2 linked regions of the Homo sapiens genome follow. The protein of the gene in region 2 purifies or fractionates together with the protein of the main gene of each other region. This does not show direct contact. Each region holds a gene or a part of one and is shown on either strand. Other genes may lie near its edges. The genes, in order: YIPF1 and KAZN.

What was found.
Region 1: the proteins of KAZN (region 2) and YIPF1 fractionate together in Homo sapiens (co-fractionation; one large-scale study listed by BioGRID). This does not show direct contact.

Annotation. Positions count from the first base shown.
Region 1 is NC_000001.11:53,865,478-53,869,297, reverse strand, and holds part of YIPF1 (protein YIPF1), read left to right. Parts: intron 1-2,373; coding exon 2,374-2,540; intron 2,541-2,915; coding exon 2,916-3,098; intron 3,099-3,820.
Region 2 is NC_000001.11:15,095,017-15,098,836, forward strand, and holds part of KAZN (kazrin), read left to right. Parts: intron 1-3,820. UniProt on the Homo sapiens protein: Component of the cornified envelope of keratinocytes. May be involved in the interplay between adherens junctions and desmosomes. The function in the nucleus is not known.

The sequences.
Region 1 (3,820 bases), about 39 Mb from region 2:
TATCCAGTAACCTTGGTTTGAGTTTAATGCAATAAATGTTAACCATGAGATAGAAACCCTGCCTTCAGCTAGTTCACTGTGTGTACATAGAAAGATATGTATTTGCCTGTGTGTGTGTGTGTGTGTGTGTGTGTGTGAGAGAGAGAGAGAGAGAGAGAGAGAGAGAATGTATCCATGTATCCTTCCTTCTTTTCTTCCCCTCTACCTTCCATGCCCACTTTCCCTTCTTGTCCATCATGGAGTCAGACTTGGATTCAATCCCAACTCTATCAAATAACCTTGATTTGAGTTTAATTCAGTAAATATTAACCATGAGATATAGATCCTGCCTTCAAGTAGTTCAGTGGTTAGAAAGCTAGTAAATGACTATTGCTGTAAACAGTACATATTAACCTCTATATCAGAGATAAGTGTAGGTATATTGACATAGAAGAAGGAGTGAACCACTTTGCCTGGGGATCTGGAAACTCAGGAGAGTCTTTACCTGTTCTTATCCTCTTTGGCTGGGCATCCCAGTATCAGGAAGTGATGTGATATATATACTGGTAAAGTAGTCATTGGCCCTATCAATAAACATTTTTCCGTTTTATGTAAAAAGTATGAGTCACATCTGAGATGAGATCCTGCTTCTACTAACTTGTTAATTATGTGACCTTGACCAAACAACTTAGCTTCTCTGACCCCTTTTCCTCATCTCTAAAATGACAATATAGATTGTATGAAATAAATGTAGCTACATATTAGTTAACAATATAAAAACTAATTCTTGATTGAGCATTTATTATTGATCAGTCGCTCTTCTACATAGAACAGTTCTTACCTGCTTTTATTCATTTAATTCTCCTATTAATCTTAGAAGGTAGTATATTATTTTTCTTCCCATTTTATAGATGAGGAAACTGAGACAGGAAGGTTAAGTAACTTACCCCCAAGAGTTTCTTTTCCTAGAACTAGAACCCATGGAGTCTGTATACAGAGTCTGTGCCCTTGACCATTATTCCACATTGCCTCTCAATAAAGCACCGAGTGTAATACCTGATGCCCAGTAGTTGATCAATAAGTGACAGCTATAGCCATGGGAGTAATTTCCTCCTCTTCCCTTAGTTATCCAAGAAAAAGGCAGTACATCAGCAGAATTACATTTGGCCTAACGAGGCAATTCCCAGTGTGAAAAAACTGTTCTGGGAGCTAAAACATGTTTTGGACATTCATGTCTTAACCAGAGTCTGACTATAATTGTTAGGGGTGTCTTTGTTCTTGCCAAGATGCATTAAGTGAATTACCTACTGATTTTCATGTAGAAAGGGCTGGTGCCATGGCTTACCTATAACTTTATGACCTCCACTCCAGAAGAGGGAAAGGGAATCCTCCAGGGCGTGCTGCTACTAGAGGAAGAGGAGAGAGGTACAGGAATATGCTGAACGTTGCTGTTCTGAGGAGCCACTCAATAGCATTTTTGCCACAGTGGCGGAATTATTTATTTAAGGAAGAAAGTATAACTGGAGAATATTTCAAGCAGTTAATCAGTGAGCTGCATCTCCCAATTTCAGAGACAGAGGAACTCTAGAGAGCATGCAGAGCAAGTTAATCTCTACCCAAGGCATTTTAATACATTTGCTAAAGAAGTCAGTGTCAGCCGGGCGTGGTGGCTCACGCCTGTAATCCCAGCACTTTGGGAGGCGGAGGCGGGCGGATCACGAGGTCAGGACCATCCTGGCTAACACGGTGAAACCCCGTCTCTACTAAAAATACAAAAAATTAGCCGGATGTGGTGGCGGGCGCCTGTAGTCCCAGCTACTCGGGAGGCTGAGGCAGGAGAATGGCGTGAACCCGGGAGGCGGAGCTTGCAGTGAGCCTAGATCGCGCCACTGCACTCCAGCCTGGGCGACAGAGCAAGACTCTGTCTCAAAAAAAAAAAAAAAAAAAAAAAGGAAGTCAGTGTCAGCTCTTGTTATACCGAGGAAGAGAACATGTTCTTCCAAGGGGATAGTTGGTTTTTATTTGATTGAAATATCTACTATATATGAACATTTGCAGTGTGGCCCTCTGAAGTATTTCAGTTGCATAGTTCAGTTGTTTAATAATATTAGTTGTTAGTTATTAAATGACCTATAAAAACCATATGAGAGACTATTGATCCTCACCACAAAGACGAATGGTAAAGATTCATTAATTCAACAAACATTTCTAAAGTGCCTACTGTGTGTTAGGTACTGTACCAAGCTCAGGGATTACAGACCAGTAAGACATGATTCCGTGGTCCACTGAAGTCAATTGACATGTTAGCATTTAAGTACAATAAGGTGTTGGAAGTGCTCTGATAGTCTACTAAAGGCATGATGGAGATTGAAACTTGTGTCCTGTCATCCTCAGTGTCCATAGCAGCTACCATCATCTATGCCTATGCCTGGCTGGTTCCTCTTGCACTCTGGGGTTTCCTCATGTGGAGAAACAGCAAAGTTATGAACATCGTCTCCTATTCATTTCTGGAGATTGTGTGTGTCTATGGATATTCCCTCTTCATTTATATCCCCACCGCAGTAAGTACCATACTTAGGGAGTAGATTCTGAGTGATGCTCTGTTCTTGGTAGAAACTTCAACCAAGAATTTGACCTACCATCATTATTTCCAGCGCAATACTCATGTTCTTCTGAAAAAATCTCCTTTGAAGTTAGAAGTTAAGCATGAAAGGGGTCTGGGGAGCCTAGTGCCTTCATTGGATCTTGGGCCCTTTGTTATAAAAGCATATGCCTCAGTCTACATGCTGGTGGTGTTCCTCCAGCCTGTACTGAAAAACCAGAGTGGCAATGGGGGCCCAGCTGCTGATTGGCTCAGGGGCCTTTGTAAACATATGTGCCTGGAATGAACAAATGCCTCCCAAGAACTCCCCGCTCCTCCTTTTCTCTTCTTTCAGATACTGTGGATTATCCCCCAGAAAGCTGTTCGTTGGATTCTAGTCATGATTGCCCTGGGCATCTCAGGATCTCTCTTGGCAATGACATTTTGGCCAGCTGTTCGTGAGGATAACCGACGCGTTGCATTGGCCACAATTGTGACAATTGTGTTGCTCCATATGCTGCTTTCTGTGGGCTGCTTGGTATGGGTTCAGTCGTATATTCTTTTGGTGTGTTTTATATCCAAATGCTAAAAGACCTCAAACTGTTAGACACAACAGTTCTTTTAAAATTGAGTCCATGGGCTGGGCATGTTGGCTCACACCCATAATCCCAATACTTTGGGAGGCCCAAGTGGGCGGATCTCGAGCTCGGGAGCTCAAGACCAGCCTGGGCAACATGGTGAAACCCTGTCTCTACTAAAAATACAAAAATTAGCTGGGCATCGTGGCTTAAACGATCCTCCCACCTCAGCATCGCAAGTAGCTGGTACTTGGGAGGCTGAGGTGAGAGGATCGCTTGAGCCCAGGAGGTGGAGGTTGCAATGAGCTGAGATCATACCACTGTACTCCGGCCTGGGTGACCGAGGGAGACCCTGTCTCAAAAGAAAAAAAAATTGATTCTATGAAATAAAATTTCATTTTAAGTAGACTCACCTACATGGGAAGTGGTGAAATTATGAGAATTTGGCTTTAGTCTTTGGTTTTGCCTAATTTCAGTAATCTGATGAGAATTTGGGGTCTGACCAGAGGAAATAGGTGTGGATGAGTGTCTGTATACATTTGTTCCTTGGTATGGGGGTTGTGGGGGTGTGGTTGGTTCCAGGACCCTCTATGGATACCAAAGCATGGATGCTCAAGTTCTCTATATAAAAATGGTGTACAGACATCCTCCTATGTGCTTTACATCATTTCCAGATTACTCA
Region 2 (3,820 bases):
ACTGTGGGCTGAACCAGGTGGTGGGGGACAGCAGGGTGTGACTAAGATGGTCCGGGGATGCCCCTGATGAGGGGGCTTGGGCATACCCCAGCCCTGCTCTGGGCCAGCCCCCTCCGTAGAAAGACAGACACATGGGGAAGACAAGAGGCCCCAAAGGCCCTAGTACACCCCCAACCAATGCGGGAACCTCACGAGCCCCCCAGCACTCCTCTGCCTTCCGGGACCAGCCCAAGCAGCTCTGCACACTGGGCCGCCATGGTGTCTGCTCCTGGTTCTTACCATACATAACAGGGTGAGGAAAAACGGTGCAAGGCAGAGCCGAGGCAGGCAGAGATCAAGTAGGCGTGAGTGGGCTTGGTGAAACCTCTCCCATAGAGGAGCGGGCCAGGTGGAGGGGGCTTCTCTTAGCAAGCATACCTGGGATGGCTGCAGGGCCTTCTCATCAGGTGTACCCCCGCAGGCCACCCACCCCCACCGCTCATACCACTCCTGCTCTGCCTCCGGCCTGCCTGCCTCTCTCCTGGCTTTCTGTGAGCAAAATTTGTTGAGCAGGGGCAGCTACAGGGTAAAGGGAAGGAACCCCCACCCCCACCCCGCCCCACCCCGTTCTGAGAATGTGGAGAGGGGAAGAACTCGCTTTGTAAATCTGACACTTCTGTTTTGCATAATTATGTCCTTCACTGGTTTCTCCATCATTTTTGTGTAGTTAGTTAATCAAACCTGGTGGTGTGTGCTGTAATTTGCAGAAGCAGCTTAGGGGATTTTTTTAGAAGCAGGGTTTGGGGTGGAAAATCGGCTGGTTTGGAAGCAGGAAAACCAAATCCATATGTGTGCAGGAGAGGGGCCCTCGGCATGACTCTAGGGTGGCAGGAAGTACTGAGGTGAGACTGGATCAGAAACTTAGGGAGCGACTCAGAGCAAGAAGGTGCCAGGCCTCATTGGCACCATCAGGATGCTGGCTCGTCTGAGACAGGGCTGGGCTGAGGGATGGGGAGGAGGGCCATGAGGGCAACCCCTGCTGGGCTTTCCTTCCTGAGGGTCCCAAAAACACCTTACACCCAGCACCCACCTCCTAACCAGTTCCATCCAGGAATCCCCTAAAGCCATCCCTGAATCCCCTCACCATCTTTGGTCACCCAAGTAGGAAATCCCTCCTGCCCCCTTACCCCACACCCAGCAGGGTCCATAAACACTGCCTGTGTTCAATGAACAGGGTGGGGATGACTGCTTCATCTTTCAAAAACTTCAGGAGTCTGGGCTACTGCCTGGGTTCCCCCTAAATGGGGATAAGCTTTTCTTCTTTTCTTTTCATAGATTACTTTTGTAGTGGGGGCAAGGGCAGAAAAACAAAAACACTAAAAGCCACTTTGATTTTGAAGAGAAGAAATGCATGGGGGGAGGACGTCCCCACCGTCCTCTGCCTCCCAGGGGTGCGGCCTGCCCAGCCCCTGCCCCCGACAGCCTCGTCCCCCAGCATGGCCTGCACTTGTGTGTTGCACAACACAGCCCCTAAATGGGGCTGTCTTAGTCTGCTTGGGCTGCCATAACAAAATGACACCATCTGGGTTGCTTAGACAACAACTTACGTCTCACAGTTCTGGAGGCTGGAAGTCCAAGATCGGGATGCCAGCATGGTTGGGACCTGGGGAGGGCTCTCTTCCTGGCTTGCAGAAGGCAACCTTCTTGCTGTGTCCTCACATGGGGAAGAAGGAAGAGGGAGGGGGAGAGAGTGATGTCTCTGGTCTCTTCCTGTAAGGACAATAATCCCATCATGAAGGGCACCCCTATGACCTCATCTAATCAGCTCCCAAAGGCCCCAGCCACAAATACCATCACATCGAAGGTTAGGATTTCAGCATGTGAATTGGGTGGGGGGCATGGCAGAGGGAAACATTTAATCCCTAACAGTGGCACCACGTTAACCTCCAGGAACCAGGAGTCTGTGGTCCCAGGGATCGTGGAGCCCCACCCTTAGACACCCCCAGGGCTTCCTGGAGGAGGCAGAGGACTTATTTTGAGTTTTCTACTCCCAGTGGGAATCTGGCCTGTCTCCAGTTTGCCACATGACCTTGCCCTCTCTGGGACTGTTTCCCACCTGAGAAGTGAAGGGAGTTAAATTAGGACAGTGGTTTTTAAACTTTTGAGGATCATGACCACTTTAAGAATCTAATAAGAGCTTTTGACACTTTCTCTAGAAAAAATACACAAAACTTCACAACTTTTCACTGTGTTGGGTTGGTGGGTGGGACTCTCTGGCCCACCCACTTTCAGGGCTCCATGGACTCGGGGGTAAGAACTCTAAATGAGTTCATCTTCGAGAACATTTTCAGCCATGACATCTTGTGTGACCATGGGCATGATGGCGTCCTCTCTGGGACTGGTCACCTTATCTACAAAATACCAATGACAAAACCCACCAACCCCTTACCAACCCATCATCACCTTATGGATATCATTTTATTTACCCTCACAACATCAATGCAGGATAGACATGCTTACTCCCATTTTAAAGATGGAGAAGGCCGGGTACGATGGCTCACACCTGTAATCACAGCACTTTGGGAGGCCAAGGCAGGTGGATCACCTGACATCAGGAGTTCGAGACCAGCCTAACCAACATGGTGAAACCCTGTCTCTACTAAAAATAGAAAAATTAGTAGGCGTGGTGGTGTGTGCCTGTGATCCCAGCTACTCAGGAGGCTGAGGCAGGAGAATTTTTTGAACCCAGGAGGCGGAGGTTGCAGTGAGCCGAGACTGCATCATTACACTCCAGCCCGGGCGACAAGAATGAAACTCCGTCTGAAAAATAAAGTCGGAGAAAATTAGATGCAGAGAAATCATGAGCATAAAGTCACACTACAAAAAACCTGACTTCAAAGTCAGTTGCCTTTCCAGTGTCCCATGCTGCCTTTGTGTTAAAAACAAGAACAATGACAGCTTCTACTACTACTATTTATAGAACACTAGGTGTGTCCCAGACCCTGTGTTAGGGGTTTTGCATTCTCCTCTCTTTTAGTCCCTACAACTCCATGAGGCAAGCGCAATTCTCCCCGTTTTACAGAGGAGAAAACGGAGACCCAGAGTTTCAAGGTCCCAGAGCTAAAAAGTAATAGAACCAGAACAGCTTCCCGTTTTCCGTGCTGCGCCGTGACCCAGACAATATCTAAATTTTGTGCCGTCCTCAGATTTCAGAGTCTAATCCGGCTCCAGTTCAGGGATGGGGCAGTGACAGATTTTATAAAATGTCTGAATTCCTTTTAAAATCATGCTGTTTTATTCAACTTGGGCTCTTACAATAAATAGCTCAAACCAACAGCTGGGAACGTATCGCCAAGCTGCGGCCCCATGGGGACACCCTTAATGAAAAGAGAACATTTCTGAAGGGCAGGAGCACATTAATTGTGGGCATGCAGATGGAGATTGCTGATTATGGATGGGCCCCTCTCGAGTAGGTTAAGTGGGGTGCCCCCTTTGCAGCTCTCCACCCCAACTCTTGTTGCACCATTGATTTGCTGACCAAACTCTTGCTTCAGAGAGGAGAGGAGGCCATTCTAGTCTTCATCAGTGACAAATCTGGCCCAGTGGCATCTGATTCAGAGGGCTGTGGGCTCCAGCTCCTGCCCGAGAGAACCGTCCTGTAACAAGGCTGAGGCCGGCCCTTGAGGGACTGGGAGGGGGACTGCCCCAGGACCTTTTCATCCTAGAAGGGAGGTTGTCTTGGGCCAGAAGTTTCCAGTTCAGGAGCTCCAGCTGGGCAGCCTCCAGGTGGACTGGGGCAGATGACCCGCTCACCCAGCACTGCTCTGTCATCCACACATTC